Linked DNA regions of Homo sapiens. The protein of the gene in region 4 interacts with the protein of the main gene of each other region in a pairwise test. Each region holds a gene or a part of one and is shown on either strand. Other genes may lie near its edges.

Region 1 (4,372 bases), on a different chromosome or scaffold from region 4:
AATGTACAACTTCTGGATCTATGCAGACATTGAAGGTGCAATGAGTCTGGCTTTTACTCTGCTGTTTCTTTCACACTTTAGATTTTAAAAGTACGTCTCAAGGAATCTTTCTTTCCAATTTGAGAACTCAACTCACTTTAAAATGGAAACACGCAACAAAAAACAGATGCTGCTTTCTAGAACTCCATTGTCATGAAATATAATATTTGCTAAAATAAGAGATTTACTTTAAAAATTAGAGTGCTTATTTCTTGCAAAGTACACCATGGAAAACCCTCGGGGGAAAATTGTTGCCAAATGTATCCATTAACTGTATTTAAAATTTCTGATTGCCTTTTTGACCATGTTATTGCTAAATAGCAAAACAAACAAAAACAAAAACAACAAAAATCCTATATCCCAGCTAGATTTCTTCCTTTAGCATATGGTAGTGTCTTCGATATTTTGTACAATGTGTAGTATTTTAAATAGTAAAGAAGTGACCATGCATCAAGCTGAAGGTAGTGACTAATGCTCAAGAGCTAGCTCTTTAAAACTATAAATATGGTTACTATGAGTATATCCACTAATGTCTCATAAGACACTCTTAATGATATCCTATCAGCCCTGAAAAAATGGCTGCTGCTATGCAACTCCAAAGAGTTACATAGTTACGTATAGTGAATGGACAACACAAATAGGTGGGTTTTTTTTGTTTTTTAATAATATGAATTTAAAATAGCCACAAACAGGGTGAGTGCATGTAAGCGGCTGAACTGCCAGTACAGGGGAAGGTAAATGGGCCTAAACTATGATACCTAGCAAGGGTTGGATCTGTGCAGGCTTCTATGTACAGAGACAAGCAGGGTTAGGCACTTAAAGCTTTTTGATGAAAATCCTGGGAAAGAGCTGAGCCTACATTTATTATTATTACTATCAAAACAACAACATACTTTTCATGAAGAAACATGCAATCAGAAACATTACAGAGACTGAAGAGAGCTTAAGAGTTTTCTGAAAATGAAATGACATGTTTTTCCAGAGTATCATCTCAATTATAAAATTTGATGGTTTTATATTATCATATTTCTTCAGTGGTAAATACCTCATTAAAAAATTATTAAAAAATTATTGACAATACAAAGCCCTAGTTAGTATACAGATATTACTATACTGGTACCCATCTTGTAAGGAAAATATCACCATCTAGATATCTTAAATATCTTCTATCATCCAATATCTTAAACCAATTTCTTAAATTGTTTTATTCAAAGGTACTTTTGTCGTCTTGCCCCTATTCTTCTATCATCAATAGTCCTTTTAAAAATTATAATATTCTACATATACAAAATAAAAATCTAATGTCATAAAAATCTCAAAAATGTAATGTTAGTAGTGTTGATTATCTAAAGAACTCAGCTTCATGGAATACCTTTCAATATTTATTGCCCAGATGTATTAAAGAGAATTCTTAAATGTAATGCATCAATGGTCCTAATACATCTGTAAACAGAATACCACTAAAAAAATTTTACTGGCATGAAATACTATACTTATGGTTGTGTGAAACTTTTAAATCTTAAAGCCTCTTAACATAATCATGTGTATCTATGTACAAAACATACATAAATTTCACTTTATTTAAAACATATGAAAGAGGTAATTTCAAACCACACTAAACATAATAAATATAGAACTCGCTTTGTTAAAAATCTACAGTATACATTCAAGTAAAGGCTAAACTTCCAATGCCAACTATATTTGAGACAAAATTAAACATTTACAATAATCAGTTTCCTAAAAGTGCTATTTTTAATACCTATAAGAGGAAACTCAGTCTAGTGCTTTTGTTTCCATCCAAACATCTATACATTCCTTTATTCACAGAACCAGATGCTTCTGTTACTAAAAATACATATCCAAAGCTTTTATATCCTTTTAAATAGATTTAAGATTTCAACTCTTTGGGGGAAGACAGGGAAGTCCAAACAAACAACTCAGACCATCTTAAGTTATTAGAGATAACTGACTTTATGACACACCCTGTTTCAACTTAGATGTGAAACTTGATGAACACATTAATGAAAAAAATTCCAGTCCACATGTCTAAGGTAAGTCATCTTTTTCTACATGAGAATTTGTGTAGCTCAAGGAGCATCCACTATAGCAACCTTCCTGTGATCCAGGTCTTGATGCCACACTCCATTTTTGATTTGTACATTCTCCTCCAACCTGATTTGGTTTAATTTCTTCAGCAGTTATATTCAGTACATTGATTGAACTGTTGGGAAAAGAAAGGCAGATCTTAGTGACTATCCTCTCCTTCTTTTGTACTTTAACCTCATAATGTGGCACTCTTCAAAAAAAATAAGTTCCTTTTAATTCTAAAAATCTAGGCCAAAAATATAATTTAAAATTTTACTTGGAAAAAAAAAACGGCTGGGAGCAGTAGCTCACACTTGTAATCCTAGCACTTTGGGAGGCTGAGGCAGCCGAACTGCTTGAGCCCAGGAATTCAGGACTAGCCTGAGTAACATGGTGAAACCCTGTCTCTACAAAAAATTAGCTGGGAGTAGTAGTGCATGCCTAGTTTAATCATTTGTACAAGGGATTCTGATGACCAAATTACTATAAATTTATTTACCAATACTTATAGTAATTCGGTCATCAGAATCCCTGTACAAATGATCAAACTAAGTTTTTTAGGTAACTTACGCACAAGTCTCCTTGCCTGGAATCTAAGGCACAGCCTTTATATAAAATTCCATTCTACAGTGAAGGAACAATGAGGATGTTGTAGAAATTAGCTACAAATACTCCTAATTATTTTGTTGCAATATTAATATAAACCGAGATCCAAAATGCTTCAGGAGCAAGAGAACCAAGTTTATCAAATAATTTAAAATGTGAAGAACCAAGTCAGGCTGCACAGCTTCTCTATTAGTTATAAAACTTTTTTCTGTTTGTTTTATTCTTAGAGGCTAGTTAACAATGAATACCTTGAATTTCTTTAAGCTCCAAAATTGTTTCTATGCCACGGATGTTGTTTAGTGGAGCACTCAGAAACAAAAAAAGCATGTTTATATTTGTTTACATATATTTTTATTTTTATAGTCTGTCACTAAATGTTTTTAAGTGCTTTACATACATTAACATTTAACTTGCAACACCCTATGATTTAGGTACTAAATGCTGAACTTTATTAAACATAAAACAATGTCTTCAAGAAATGTTTATGTCAAATATTTCACAACTAAAAATGATGTAAAAAGCTAAATATTTAAAATATATAAAAACAATTGAGACAACTATGTTATGCTATCTCTTAGATATAAAATGCATTATTTGTGAATGGTGGCTAGAATTTGTGTCTATATCTATACAGATAGTTCTGACTGGTCAAATTTAGAAGTTTGAATAACATTCTATGTAAGAAAATACTATAAGCTTACACATTATCTTTTGATTGTAAAATAAATAAACTTTCACTTCCCATATTCAACTCATCTACTGGTCTAACTTCAAAATAGATCCCAAATCCAAGCATTTCTTCCTTCATATTATGACCCTAGTCCAATTACCATTGTCTTTCGTTTCCACTCCAATAGTGCCTCCTAACTGGATTTCCTGGTTTATATTACAGACTCCTACAATCTGTTTTCAATATTATAAAACAGTAATCTTTTTAAAACTTAAGACTTTTTTTCACTCTCTTGCTTAAAACTAGTGTTTTTTCTATTCCCCTTAGAACAATATTTGACCTGCAAATGCACACTAAAATATTCTGTAAATGAAATCCCAGATGTGTTGGGGCTGGGGTGGAGAGAGCAAGCAGAGTGGGATTATATATGAACAATATTGATCAGAGTTAATAATTGCTGAACCTGAGTCATAGGTACACGTGGGTTCACGATCTTATCCTCTCTGTATATTTGAACTTTTACATCTCTCCATCCTCATCTCACACCTCTAGGTCTTGGTCACCATTGCAAATGTATGAGGTGTGTCCCACCCTCAGGGTTCCTACACTTGGCTAGAGTGCTCTTACCTAGCTCTTTTTCATCCCCTCTAACATTTACTTGGAGTCCTAATCCCCCCACCTCTTAAAAGTCAACTACAACTTATAGTGTGTTCTCCTCCTTCTTTTAAAAGCTTCCTTTCTTGTTTTAAACTCCATCTATTTCATAATTCTTGGCCCAAGGGCCAGCTGGCTTCTTCGACACTTAGTTCCACTCCAGTCTCTAACACAGGCCGAGTTTGCTTCAGCTCTGACTGTTTTCCAAGGCCATTATCTCCTACTTTTAATTAAGAGCAAAGAGATTACCACCATACTTTCCAACTTACCCCTCTGATCTTTTCTATTCCTCTCTGTCTTACTAGGAATGTTCTACCT
Region 2 (4,820 bases), about 34 Mb from region 4:
TGCCCTGGCTCTGTCCCTGCTGATACCCCTGCGGGAAGCACAGGCCCGCTTCTCTACCCCAGAAAACAAAGGCCCAGAAAGCCCTGACTCAGATTTCTCCTTTCTGATCTTGCTGAATCAGTGAAGGGGGTTCCAGGAGAACCTCATGCCTGTGCCACCCCACCCAGCCCCTGGCCTGGTATCATCCAGACCTTTGTGGCTGCTGTGGGCCAGAAAGCTGCTCCCAAGATGCCATCCACAGCAACCCTGGCCCCTTGGTGAGTGGGGCCTGGGAGTCTGCATTCAGGGTCCTCCATTGTCAGCCCTGGAATGGAGGACCTTCTATCCTGGCCTCACAGATGCCATCTGAGGTCCTTTTCTCCCAGCCTGAATGGGGAAGCTCCCTCTGGCAGGGTTCTTACATAGTCCCTGAGTTTCTCAGCCACATCTCAGGATCCTAAGCTGAGACCCTGGCCCTGGGTCCTGTGTCACATCCTCTTATGTGGCCTCTTGGCTGGGACAGACCTCATATGACTGGCGTACTAGAAAGGACCCTGCTCACATTATTACAGGGCCGTCTTCCTGGATGTGACTGTGCCCTAAAGCAGTCAGCGTAATGGAGTGATTCAACCCGAGGGCCAGACTGACCCAGGCATCTCAACCTCAACACTATTGATATTTTGGGTCTGATAATTCTTTGCTGTGGGGACAGTCCTGCACCTTATAGGATGTTTAGCAGCATACCTGGTGTTTAGCTATCAGTAGTGCCCCCAAGTTGTGACAACCAAAATGTTCCTAGACATTGTCAAACGTCCCCTGGAGAGCAAAGCAGCCTCTAGCTGAGGACCTCTGAACTTGTCTATGGGGACAGAAGTTGGAAGAGTGGTTACACCAGGGGTGTGGAGTCAGGTAATTGACTGGGAAAAGGTACAAGGACCTTTATGGAATGCTGGGAATGTCCTGGGTGGTGTTTACACAGGTCGTGCATACCCATGCGTGACATCAAGCTGGACACGTGATCTATACATTTTACTGTATGAAAAATGTACCTAAAAAATGCACCTTAGCGTCAGACAGAACCAGACTTGGATTTCAGTCCTGATTCTGCCCTTAAGGTTCATTTTCCTCATGTGTAAATGGGGGCAATAGTAGGACCCTCCTCCTGTGGCTGCTGTGAAGGTTAAATGAGATGATGAGTGTAAAGTAACTTCACCCAGTTCCTGCCTATGGTGAGGGCTCGGAGAATATTCGCTATGATAATGGACAGGGCCACTTCCTCTTTCCATGCCTGAGTTTCCACAGCTGTGTCTGATGGTCCCTAAGATCCCTTAAGGTCTCTGTCACTGTGACTTTTTCTGATGGCCTCGGAGCTATTTCTTTCTCAGTCTAAATACTTTCAAGGCAGGTGATTCTATCGAACCAAGCAAAGTTTGTCATCAGAGTTGCTGGGGCCCCTGGAGTAGATGAAGTGCTAAGAAGGATCCAGGACATCCCAGTCAGAAGTTTTAGGTATAGAAAAAAGGAAGGTCGAGGGCTACGGTGACCTTGCAAAGCACAGAGCCACTCTGCACCCACCACTTTCCTCGCAGAAGCTCCTGGCAGGCCTCCGCATCTCAGGTCCCGTTCTAATACTGGGTGGGGCTCAGAGCCTGCACAGTGAACTCCTTAAGTGGAGGTGAAACAGAATTCACTTGTCAAAAGGGCAGTCTCAGGCAGAATGCTGTCCCCTCTGAATCATTCTTTTTGTTAAGGATTAAAAAAAAAGCCACCCCCAAAAGGCACAACCCACCCTGGAGAGATCAGAGATAACTAAGCTTGTGGGAAACAGAAGTGTAGTTGGCACCAAGTCAGAGGGTGGGGAAGGGAGGAGAGAAGATAACCAGCCCCTATGGAGGTGTATAAAAGGTGTCCACTCTGGGGAAGAGCCACAGTCCTCGGCCCAGGCCAAGCAAGCTTCTATCTGCACCTGCTCTCAATCCTGCTCTCACCATGAGCCTCCGCCTGCAGAGCTCCTCTGCCAGCTATGGAGGTGGTTTCGGGGGTGGCTCTTGCCAGCTGGGAGGAGGCCGTGGTGTCTCTACCTGTTCAACTCGGTTTGTGTCCGGGGGATCAGCTGGGGGCTATGGAGGCGGCGTGAGCTGTGGTTTTGGTGGAGGGGCTGGTAGTGGCTTTGGAGGTGGCTATGGAGGTGGCCTTGGAGGTGGCTATGGAGGTGGCCTTGGAGGTGGCTTTGGTGGGGGTTTTGCTGGTGGCTTTGTTGACTTTGGTGCTTGTGATGGCGGCCTCCTCACTGGCAATGAGAAGATCACCATGCAGAACCTCAACGACCGCCTGGCTTCCTACCTGGAGAAGGTGCGCGCCCTGGAGGAGGCCAACGCTGACCTGGAGGTGAAGATCCGTGACTGGCACCTGAAGCAGAGCCCAGCTAGCCCTGAGCGGGACTACAGCCCCTACTACAAGACCATTGAAGAGCTCCGGGACAAGGTGAGCCCTTGGAAGCTGAGGAGGGGTCCTCCATGAAGGGCAGAGCCTCCAAGGCCAAGAAACACAGTGTTGTGGGGGACTAGGTGTGGACGGAATTCACAAACTTCTTGCAGGGGAAAAGCCTACTGTTTGACTACCAAGAGTCTCTACCTCTGATGGGCTTTCTCATGCCACAACTCCCCAAATGCATTTTCTCTCATTATTCATTTTTATGATTGTTATTACTCAGGTCAGTTTTTTTACTGCTTTCCAGACAGTTATGTTATTCATGACTCGATCTCTATAATCCTAACCTACTGAGTTATCTGGAAACATGACAGGTTTAAAAGCCATTAAGAATGCATGAAATCAACAGAGAAAGAGAGACGTGTTCATTCATTGCCCTGGGAATAATTGTTTACTTTGTAGGGGACCCATTCAAACTGGTATTCTCAACTGGCGATGGCCAAGTTGGGGGAGAGAGAGGCAGAGGCTTAGGCAGTGCCGAGCCTGGGTGCCCTTTGTTGAGCCCTGTCTGTTGTGCTGTGATACCAGCCTGTTGGAGCAGAAATCTACCAGCCTGGGCTGAGTCTCAGCCATGTGGAGCAGGCTTTCACTGCTTTGGAATATAAACGTTTAGACAAGAAATTCAAAGGGATGGGAATATTTGTTGGATTTCCCCTCCACTCAGCTGGGAAGTCAGCTCTAGCAAAGTGATTGTGAGATATGTGGCACCAAGCCGAGTCCCTCCTGACTTTCAGGGGATGGATCTCAAGACAGTGGCCTAGGGAGGGTGCTAGTCTGAGGCTGCCAAGACATGACGAACCAAAGATGTTCTCAGCAGGTCGTTCCTCAGAAATGCACTCCCTGCATCTCCCCCAGGGTGCTCAGACATGGAATATTAAAGTGTTAGAAACGATTGGAGGGGATGCAGCCCCACTCCTCACTTTACAGAAGAGCAATGGAGGCCCAGAGGGAAATGCCTTGTCCCAGCTCACAGGACAGTTTAGAGGTAGAGCCCCATGGGAACCAGGTCCTGCCCATGTTTTCCCAGGCCACCTCCTCAAGCACGTGGACCCCCCAGAGCAAGCTTGTCTAACCTGTGGCCGGTGGGCTGCATGTGGCCCAGGACAGCTTTGATTGAGGCCTAACACAAATTTGTAAGCTTTCTTAAAACATTGAGTTTTTTTTTATTTTTTATTTTTGCCAATTTCTTTTTAGCCCATCAGCTATCGTTAGTGTTAGCGTATTTGATGTGTTGCCCAAGACAATTCTTCTTCCAATGTGGCCCAGGGAAGCCAACAGACTGGACACCCATGCCCTAGAGGTTACCTTCTTCTGCATTTTGTAGATCCTGACCGCCACCATTGAAAACAACCGGGTCATCCTGGAGATTGACAATGCCAGGCTGGCTGCGGACGACTTCAGGCTCAAGTGAGTTTTTTTTTTCCCCCTCCCTCTCCTTTCCCAGGAGTCTCTTAGTTTAGACAAAAGCTCATCTGACCAATGACACTGGAGCATCCCAGGAGTGAAGGTCTGGAAGTACTGGAGTCTCGTGCAGGGGTAGGGAGAATGTCTCATATCATTTATGTCTTGCTTTTTCAAAAAACATTTCATTTTTTTACTATTTTAGGTATGAGAATGAGCTGGCCCTGCGCCAGAGCGTGGAGGCCGACATCAACGGCCTGCGCCGGGTGCTGGATGAGCTCACTCTGTCTAAGACTGACCTGGAGATGCAGATCGAGAGCCTGAATGAAGAGCTAGCCTACATGAAGAAGAACCATGAAGAGGTGAGCGGGAATTGCAGGCTGCCCTGGGCTCAACAACCTCCAGTGAGAAGGAGGAGCCCTCCCCTGCAACTGGACACAGTCCTCCACTGTGGGACCTGGAAACACTCTCCAGAACACTCTGCCAGCACTCAGAGCCAAGGAGAGGGAGGATGAGTAGCCTCACACATCTTCCTTTCCCATCCCCACAGGAGATGAAGGAATTTAGCAACCAGGTGGTCGGCCAGGTCAACGTGGAGATGGATGCCACCCCAGGCATTGACCTGACCCGCGTGCTGGCAGAGATGAGGGAGCAGTACGAGGCCATGGCAGAGAGGAACCGCCGGGATGCTGAGGAATGGTTCCACACCAAGGTACCCGGCCCTCCCACCCCACATAGCCCATCCCATATAGCCAGGGGGGCCGGGCGGACACAGCCTCTTGGTCAGGCTGCTCGAGCTGAGCTTCCCCACCACCTTCTTCCTGCTTGCATTTCAGAGTGCAGAGCTGAACAAGGAGGTGTCTACCAACACTGCCATGATTCAGACCAGCAAGACAGAGATCACGGAGCTCAGGCGCACGCTCCAAGGCCTGGAGATTGAGCTGCAGTCC
Region 3 (4,372 bases), on a different chromosome or scaffold from region 4:
ACCTGTGTATGTTACCTGTCTGTGTGCCTTGGGGAGGAGTGAAAAGGGGGACGACTAGGTTATTGTTGTGTGTGTTTTTTAAACTTTGCAGTAATTATTCAAATCTGAACTCTGGTTCTGCCGCCGTCCTTTTCAGAGCTTCGTGGCTAGACTTATGTCTAGAGGATCTCTGTGGGATAGGCTCTCTCTGCACAAGAAGCTTGAGCTTTTGCCAGGCCCAGGGAGTCCTTGGTGTTTATCTCTGCTGTCACCCCCGAGTCCATCCCATGTGGTCAGGAGGTGTAGTTCCTGTTTTAAGTGAGATGGTGAGGGGGAAGGGGTCTCTTGAATGCTGTTGTGGGGAGGAGGCTAGCCTTCTGCTGCAGACTTCAGCCTCATTCTGAGCCGGTCCAGATGAGTCTGGCCAGCAAACCCTGAATCTTTGACCAATGAGACCCTCAGCTGAGTCTGTGAGAGGCAGCTTTGGAAATTCCCCACTCTCCAACTCAGGACAGCAGTGGAAACTGCTTTCTCCATTTATTCCCCCAGTTGCCTTCATGAGGAAGATGGGTTGGTCATGGCATGGGGGCTGCAGTGTCTCTGTAGAGGGACGCCTTAAGGGATGCCACGTTTCCACTCTCCTGTATTATCTTTTTTTTCTTTCTTTCTTTCTTTTTTTTTGGCAGTGCCCTCATTCTGGTCAGGGGCAGATGTAGTAACAACTTTACACTTGATATTAACTGCCGAACTGCCCTCAACCAGAATTGAAATCAGGTGTAAGAAAAGGAGGCTTCCCCTTACCCCGCGCCCCCATCCACCCCATCCCCCCATCCCCCCCCCCGCCCCCAGAGAAAACATACCATTGAACCCAGCAATGTGGACCCAGTAAGGAGCAGAAAACCCAGCTGCAGCCTGCTTGTGGGAGCATGGGGAAACAAGCAGGGCTTTTCCTGTTTATCTCTGTCTGCTTCATCACAACATGTTTACTACCGGGTGCAAGGGACTTCCAACCAGATGTGACTTGGGGACTTTCACAGTTTGATTTGCTGTGTGGTCTTGGGCAAATCACTCAACTTTTCCGAGCCTTTTTCTGGTGAAAGGGACTAGGAATATCGGAGTGTGTCCAAACTTATTTATTTATTTATTTTGAGACAGAGTCTTGCTCTGTCACTCAGGCTAGAGTGCAGTAGCATGACCACGACTCACTGCAGTCTCAAACTCCCAGGCTCAAGTGACTCCCCAATCTCAGCCTCCCAAGTAGCTGGTACTACAGGCACACGCCACCATGCCTGGTTAATTTTTAAATTTTTTGTAGAGACAGGGTCTTGCTATATTGCCTAGGCTGGTCTTGAACTCCTGGACTCAAGCGAAACTCCTGCCTCATTCTCCCAAAAAGCTGGGATTACAGGTGTGAGCCACCGTGCCCAGCCCCTCCAAACTTGCTTTCCAGTGCTGGAAAAATTGTTTTCCAATGCTGGCACAGTTTTCCAATGATAGAAAAATTCCATTATTGACTCTGGAACTGGGTAGAAGTTGACTTGTTTTAGATTTGATGGTGGTACCACAGAAGGGTGTTTAATTTTTAATGCTCCCCTACCTCATACCTGTGTTTGGTCAAGGCAGATAAGCAGTTCTGGTTTGCTTTTGTTTTCATTTTAAACTTTGGAGATGAGAACTTTTGGTATCTTAGTTCCATTTCTGTTTTCTCATGACAGCTCCAGGCACTGTGATGAATTAAGTGCATTGGAAGAAATCATCTTGAGAAAGGGGCAAAAATAATAATAATAATAATAAAGGACTCTGTGTAAAGCACCTCCGTAGAGGTTGGGGCGGTATTGGAAGAGGAGAGAATTTTTATCTTTGCCAAAGAAATCTGAATGGTGTTTAGTGACAGTTAGTGGTTTCATGGGCTCCTATGGTCTCCCTCTGTTCCTTCAGCACTGTGGACCATCTTACTGTACACTGTAAATTTCTGCTACAGTGCCCTGGGATCTGTGATTATAGGGTGGGAAGGGCCAGTGAAAAGTAGTAGTTAAGCAGCAATTTTAAAACTGTAATTGAAAAATAACCTAAAAATGGACATTGCCTCACAGGAGGCTCATGCAGATACATTGAGGGCCTTCTCAACTGTTCCACACACCTGTGGGACCTTCGGGGAAAATCTCAGTAGACATCCTGCAACAGGAGCACAACAATTCAGTCCCATTCTTCAGCCACTTGCAGCTTGGATTCCTGTTGAAACACTCGAGTTCATGTTTCGATTCATTTGTCCTTATTGCCCAGCCTTTTGCTGCTAACAGATTCCCTGCTTGTTGGGAGGAGATGCTGGGGTTGCTAAGCCACAGAGAGTGCTGGCTGACCAAAAGTACACCACAATTCTACAGCAAGAAAACCCAGTTCCATTGCATATGGGAGGAGAGGTGGGGCTTAGGGGAATACTGCAGACAGGGAGCACACATTCCTGCTAAGAATACAGCATACGGGCCGGGAGCGGTGGGTGGCTCATGCCAGTAATCCCAGCACTTTGGTAGGCCGAGGTTGGTGGATCACTTGAGGCCAGGAGTTTGAGACCATCCTGGCCAACATGGTAAAATCCTGTCTCTACTAAAAATACAAAAATTAGCCAAGTGCAGTGGCACACACCTGTAGTCCCAGCTACTTGGGAGACTGAGGTGGGAGGATCGCCTGAGCCCAGGAGGTTGAAGCTGCAGTGAGCCATGATCATGCCATTGCACTCCAGCCTGGGCTACAGAGCAAGACCCTATCTCAAAAAAAAAAAAAAAAAAAAAAAAAACACAAAAAAACACACACACAAAAAACAACAACCGAAAAAAAAAAAAAAAACCACAACGTGTGGTAGATACTTCTGAGGCCCAGGATGAGTGGCCAAGCATAAGAGTGAGCTGGTTCTATCCTGATATGTGATGGAAGTCTGAAGGCACGGGAGGAAATTACCAACCTCCCCACCTCTCTCACAGTGGGAAGAATTGAGTCTTTCCTGAAAGGAGGTGTCTGGGGATGCTGGCCATGGGCTTTCCCCCTGGACTTCCCCTAAGGTTCTCTTTCCTCTCACAAAAGCCCCTTTAAGTAATTTCCCTGGAGATTTCTGAGCAGTATTAATATATTTCCCTGAAGAAAAAGGGGGAGCTCCAAATTCCATCATTCCCCTCCTGGTTTGAAGCACTTTTGACTCAAGACTCATTTGGGTTCCAGTTCATGTTCCAGTCACACCATACACTGGTCTTCCTGCCTACTTAGTGAAGAGCAGGAAAGATAATTCGAAGCCAGATATCTGAGAGAAAGTCACAACTGAGTCCTGTGTGGTTCTCCCTGCTGGCTCTCCGCCTTTCCTGGTGGTCACAGGCAGCTTCCTCCCACTGTGAGTGGCGTGTGTTCCTTCACCACTCCTGCAGAGAGCCCACTAGAGAAGGGTTCATGCAGTCAGCAGATACCACCTTCAGCAGGAAAGGTGCTGCTGAATTAAATTGTGAAACATGCTTATAAAAGTGCCTGAAAACATGTACGCAGTTTAAATAACAGAAGCAAAGCAGACACCTCATCTACCCAAGTCAAGGAAAAAAAAAAACTGACATTCCCGAGAAGCACCTGCTTGTTTTCTATTTGTTTATTTCTTATATATATATTTTTTCAAGGCTCAGGGTTTTGATAAAATTTATAGGTCTCAGTTTCTCCTTTTTTTTTTAAAGGGTAGTCAAATGAAGCAGTGAGAGTGGAGAGTTTCTTCATTTTTTAAATGAAGGAGAAGACAAGCTACTTCATAAGAACGTAGGTGGAATGAAGATATGTACGTTCCCTGGGGCTCTCCAGGAGTGTTGTGATGGTTGCGATGGCTCTCTGAGGGCCTGCTGCATCTTGAGGCCCAGTAGATATGTTAAGGCTTGAAGATTCCTGCAATCTCAGGTGGGAGCCGGACGCCTGGGATAAGTTTTATCAGAGGAGGTAGAATTGAAGTATACCTAAAAACAAGGACATGGGAGGCCAGGCGTGGTGGCTCACACCTGTAATCCTAGCACTTTGGGAGGCCGAGATGGGTGGATCATGAGGTCAGGAGATCAAGACCATCCTGGCTAACACAGTGAAACCCCATCTCTACCAAAAATACAGAAAAATTAGCCAGGCATGGTGGCGGGCACCTGTAGTCCCAGCTACTCTGGAGGCTGAGGCAGGAGAATTGCTTGAACCTGGGAGGCGGAGGTTGCAGTGAGCCGAGATCGTGCCACTGCACTCCAGCCTGGGCGACAGAGCGAGACTCTGTCTCAAAAATAAAAAACAAAACAAACAAACAAAAAGGAAATGGGAAATTAGTTATTTGGCCTCACCTCCAGCTGATCTCCAGGTCAAATAGGATGAAATACTTCTAAGAAAACCATCA
Region 4 (5,035 bases):
ATTTTTGTATTTTTAGTAGAGATGGGGTTTCACCATGTTGGCCAGGTTGGTCCCAAACTCCTGACCTCAAGTGATCCACCTGCCTCGGCCTCCCAAAGTGCTGGGATTACAGGCATGAGCCCCCACACCCAGCCCTATGGTTTTTAACAATTTGTTTTTGAAGCAGTTCTACTGCTAACAAAGTTGAAAATCACTGCATCAGGTGGCCTGTGACATTCCTTTTAGCACCTCTGTTCTCCGGAGAGACCTATCCGAGATTCCTTGGGCTTTCTAAGCTACTCCTCCCCTTTTTAGAGTCATCCAGTGCCCTGGGATGCAGGTAGGGGCTGACGCCTCCCCTTTGCAGGTCCCTCCTGGGTGATGATGTCTTCAGCACCATGGCAGGCCTGGAAGAAGCTGATGCTGAGGTGAGCCTGGCTGTTTCCCTCCACCTCCCTACTTATCCCCAGAAACACTGAGATGGGTGTTGTGGCCAAGGGGCTGCCCACGGAAGGGTTTAGAAGTCCCTGCAAAGTCACTTTGTTCTTTTTGTTTGTTTTTTGAGATGGAGTCTCCCTCTGTTGCTCAGGCTAGAGTGCAGTGGTGTGATCTCGGCTCACTGCAACCTCTGCCTCCCGGGGTCAAGCAATTCTCCTGCCTCAGCCTCCCAAGTAGCTGGGCTTACAGGTGCCTGCCACCATGACTGGCTAATTTTTGTTGTTGTTGTTTTTGTTTTGAGATGGAGTCTCCCTCTGTCGCCCAGGCTGGAATGCAGTAGTGCGATCTTGGCTCACTGCAATCTCCGCCTCCTGGTTCAAGCGATTCTCCTGCCTCAGCCTCTTGAGTAGCTGGGATTACAGGCACCCACCACCACGCCTGGCTGATTTTTGTATTTTTAGTAGAGATGGGGTTTCACCCTGTTGGTCAGGCTGGTCTCAAACTCCTAACCTCTTGATCCACCCACATCGGCCTCTCAAAGTACTGTGATTACAGGCTGACCCACCGTGCCCAGCCAAAGAAAATAATTTTTGTATTTTTAGTAGGTAATTTTGTATTTTTAGTAGAGACGGGGTTTCACCACATTGGCCAGGCTGGCCTCAAACTCCTGACCTCAAGTGATCTACCCGCCTCGGCCTCCCAAAGTGCTGGGATTACAGGCGTGAGCCACTGTAAATAATGCCCAAGGGCTGCCGAGTGGACCCAAAGCAGAATCCTCTTTCCTGTAGTAAGATGAGTGGAAAGGAGAGCTCCCTGAAACTGCTAGAGTCTTAGATGTTGCTCCTTTCCCCTTATAAACTCCATAGCTGTCCATTGGCATGGGTGGGAAGTAGCAGAATTTCAGTCCTGGATGGAAGAGTTCTCTATGGTTGGAAGGAGTAGGAATGGCAGTGCTCTCTGAGTCTCTAAAACCAGGCAGGTTTGGCTTCAAACAACTGCCAAGCCCAAGCAAGGGGAACAAAGCCACCCTCCTGTGTAAGCTCCATTGGCCAAGCTCTGCTCCTGCCGCGCCGTCTGCCCTAACAGAAGCAAGGGGCCAGGACCCTGAGTTTTATTGGGCCTTGACTAATGTGCCTCCTCATCTGTGTCCTCACCCTCATTGTGGACTTAGGTTTCAGGTATCTCAGAGGCAGACCCACAGGCTCTGCTCCAGGCCATGAAGGTAAGGAAACAGCTTGCACGATTCTTAGAACTGGGGGTGGGTGGGGTGGGGTCATGATATTTTGTACCAAAGCTTCATTCTCCTTCTAATTTCTCCCTTTACAACCTGTGTTTCTGAGCCCTTCCTCGTGCAAGCATGGAACTCGTCTGTGAGCCGTTGGCCTCCTTGCCTTTCTGAGTATCAACCAGTGTTCCTGGTATATAGAGAGTGGAGAGTGCCACAGGCCTCTGGGGAAACGGGGCCAGCTCTACTCGGAGGCCCACCTAGCTGGGTCCCCTCACCTCCACCTAGAAGACAGAGGGGGAGACTCTTTCCTCTAATGCTTGTTCTTAATCTTTCTCCATATTTCTCTCCACATCCCCTGCCAAGCCCCCTTCAATACTGCTGTCTTCTCATCAGATCAAGCCCAGCGCCAATCTTTGCAATGGATTTTTAAGGCACAGATTCTGAATAATTTGTAAGGACATAATCTCTAGCTTGGCCTAAGACACCTTGTTCTCCCTCTCCTTCCAGCCAGCAGCACCTTCCTGTCTGACCCTTGGGGTTTTGTGTCCCTTTTAGTTAACCCATTTTGCCACAGTCCCTAGGACAAAGCCGCGTTTTTGGTTACAGCCCTGTGGGGCTCTTGTTTTTGTTGTGTATTTTTGTTTTTTGGGTTTTTTTTTAGAGACACCATCGCATTCTATCACCCAGGCTGGAGTGCAGTGGTGTGATCTCATTGCAACCTTAAACTCCTGGCCTTAAGCGATTCTCTTACCTTGGCCTCCCAAAATACTGTAATTACAGGCATGAGGCACCACACCCGGTCCAGATTCAGCTTCTTTAATCTCATCTTGAAATCTTTCTCCTCAAAGGCCAGGCACCTGTAATCCCAGAACTTTGGGAGGCCGAGGCAGTAGGCTCGCTTGAGCCTAGGAGTTGGAGGCTGCAATGAGCTATGATCACACCACTGCACTACAGCCTGGGTGGTGACAGAGTGAGACTCTGTCTTCAAAAAAAAAAAAAAAGTCTGGCATGGTGGCTTACTCCTGTAATGCCAGCACTTTGGGAGGCCATGGCAGGTGGATCACTTGAGCTCAGAAGTTGGAGGCTGCAATGAGCTATGATCGCACCACTTCACTCCAGCCTGGGTGACAGAGTGAGACTCTGTCTTTATTTTATTTTATTTTTAATTTATTTTTATTTTTTTGAGACGGAGTCTTGCTCTGTTGCCTAGGCTGGAGTGCAGTGGCATGATCTCGGCTCACTGCAACCTCCACCTCCCAGGTTCAAGCGATTCTCCTACCTCAGCCTCCCAAGTAGCTGGGATTACAGGCGTGCACCACCACACCCAACTAATTTTTGTATTTTTTGTAGAGACAGGGTTTCATCATGTTGGCCAGGATGGTCTCGATTTCTTGACCTGGTGATCCACCTGCCTCGGCCCAAAGTGCTGGGATTCTAGGCATGAGCCACCGCGCCCGGCCAATATCCTGTCTAAAAAAAGAAAAAAAAGAAAGCTTTTTTCCCGAGACCAGCCACCTAGGATCCCTGGGCATAACCCACAAGTCCTCTGACTCAATTTTTGGTGCTGACTTTGAGTCTCTCATCCCAGAACCATGAGCTGGACTCCATTCCACCTCCCCCTGCTTACCTTTAGTTCCATTTTCTTTCTTCACTCACTGTTTTTCTCAACAGTTTTCTCATTTTCCTTTGTTTTCTCACAATTCTACACCTGGGGTGCCAACAGCCCATCTCTCTCAGGTGGAAGTCCTCAGCCCCTTATCAGACATAGTCCTCTGCCCTCCCTCCCTGGTTTTCTAGGACCTGGACGGCATGGATGCTGATATCTTAGGTCTGAAGAAATCTAATTCAGCCCCTAGCAAAAAAGCTGCAAAGGACCCTGGGAAAGGAGAGCTGCCCAACCACCCCAAGCCTGCAGGTGGGTCAGTAGCCAGTGAGAAAGGTGCATGGGAGACGGCTCCTCGCATCTGCTAGGGAGACTTTGAGGACGTGGAAGATGCTAGTAGGAAGCGTTCATGTCCTTGGGTTTTCTCTGCACAGGATGGAGAGGCCAAGGAGCATTTGTGCGTGTGTGTGTTTGAGTGTGTGTGGTGGGGTAAGGGGACAGCTTGAGTTTCCTCCCTTCCTCGAGCTGTTCCAGGCCCTCTGGGTCCAACATGGGCAGCTCCTGGAGAAGCTGTGTGAGTTAAAATGGAGAACTCTATGGCAGCCTGTGCCTCTCCTGAACCCATGTCTCTGGAGTGACTCATGATGAGGAAGCAGAGGTAGCTCCTACCTCGTTTCCCTGCCAGAAGCCCATGGCAGAACTGGAGACTCCTCCCTTGGCTGTGCCCATGGCCATGAGCCCCCAGCTTCCCAGGAAGAAGTGCACCCCATCCCAGGGGCCCCAGTCCATGATATGGGAGGAGGACTTTGGCCAGGAGAGACTCAGGCCCATGACCTTGTCTTCTGCTTCCTGCAGGGGGTGCCATTCCCACCAAGAAGTCACTTCCGTCTCCCAGCAGCTCTGGGCATCAGAACAGGAGGTTTTCCTCTGAAGGTACCATAGGCTCCTGTCATGCCTCTGGGACACTCTGGTTTGGGAGTGGAGCAGCCTAGGCATGCTTGCTGGCCCGAGGCCCAGCTGCTGCCTATGTCACATGGGTGCCACTGGTTTACTTCCTCGTGAATTCATGTCGGGACCAGCTATATTGTATTGGCTGAGATATTAGGGAACTTATTTGCAAAGACCTTAAAGCCAGGCATCAAACTGAAGATCTTCCCAAGTATAGGAAGGAGCCCCTTTCCCGTCATGAATGTGTGGATATTTTACTTCTCTTCTGATGCTTGAGGGACATTTCCAGAAGGCCATGCAGCCTGCAGAGTCAGAGGCCCCACCGGCAAGCCTGAGGCAGGCCCCGTAGGTCCAGGGCCGCCCTCCAACTCCCTCTCTCCTTGCCCGGCCTGTCTTTTTGTGGAGTCCCCGTTGCCCCAGGCCCCACCCTCCAGATGCCAGGGGGCTTGTTTATGTACTGGAGCAGCTAGAAGCCTTGACTCGAGCGCTGCTCCCCAGTTCAGGCTTGCTTTTCCTCAACTAAGTGCTGCAGTCTGACCTGTGCTTTCCCTTCTGCTGTGAGACTTGGAAGACCCATTGAGAGGACTTCTCTCCTATGATGAAGGAGGAATCACCAAGCAGCCGCCTGTGACACAGAGTAAAACAGCTTCTGACAAGAGCCCCAGCACAGTGAGAGATCAAGGTAGGGTGGAGTGGGCTCATTTCCCATCCTGGAGGAAGAGTTTATTGGCAACAAGCTAACCAGCCTTTCTGGTGCAGAACCAGAGGCCTCTCCCAGGTGGGGACCAGAGGTCTAAGGTCCAGTACAAAGAGATCATCAGCCTTTAGGAATAGGAAGG

What was found. The genes of interacting proteins can lie anywhere in the genome.
Region 1: the proteins of FBF1 (region 4) and SSX2IP interact in binary tests that used the Homo sapiens proteins (3 or more experiments, as listed by UniProt).
Region 2: the proteins of FBF1 (region 4) and KRT13 interact in a two-hybrid assay, tested with the Homo sapiens proteins (one large-scale study listed by BioGRID).
Region 3: the proteins of FBF1 (region 4) and TMCC2 interact in a two-hybrid assay, tested with the Homo sapiens proteins (one large-scale study listed by BioGRID).

Annotation. Positions count from the first base shown.
Region 1 is NC_000001.11:84,645,348-84,649,719, forward strand, and holds part of SSX2IP (afadin- and alpha-actinin-binding protein), read right to left. Parts: intron 2,261-4,372; coding exon 2,086-2,260; 3' UTR 1-2,085. UniProt on the Homo sapiens protein: Belongs to an adhesion system, which plays a role in the organization of homotypic, interneuronal and heterotypic cell-cell adherens junctions (AJs).
Region 2 is NC_000017.11:41,502,699-41,507,518, reverse strand, and holds the start of KRT13 (keratin, type I cytoskeletal 13), read left to right. Parts: upstream 1-1,906; 5' UTR 1,907-1,968; coding exon 1,969-2,463; intron 2,464-3,793; coding exon 3,794-3,876; intron 3,877-4,075; coding exon 4,076-4,232; intron 4,233-4,420; coding exon 4,421-4,582; intron 4,583-4,706; coding exon 4,707-4,820.
Region 3 is NC_000001.11:205,230,188-205,234,559, forward strand, and holds part of TMCC2 (transmembrane and coiled-coil domains protein 2), read left to right. Parts: intron 1-3,589; exon of another isoform or gene 3,590-3,956; intron 3,957-4,372.
Region 4 is NC_000017.11:75,926,601-75,931,635, reverse strand, and holds part of FBF1 (fas-binding factor 1), read left to right. Parts: intron 1-346; coding exon 347-407; intron 408-1,588; coding exon 1,589-1,639; intron 1,640-3,442; coding exon 3,443-3,560; intron 3,561-4,103; coding exon 4,104-4,181; intron 4,182-4,758; coding exon 4,759-4,878; intron 4,879-5,035. UniProt on the Homo sapiens protein: Keratin-binding protein required for epithelial cell polarization. Involved in apical junction complex (AJC) assembly via its interaction with PARD3. Required for ciliogenesis.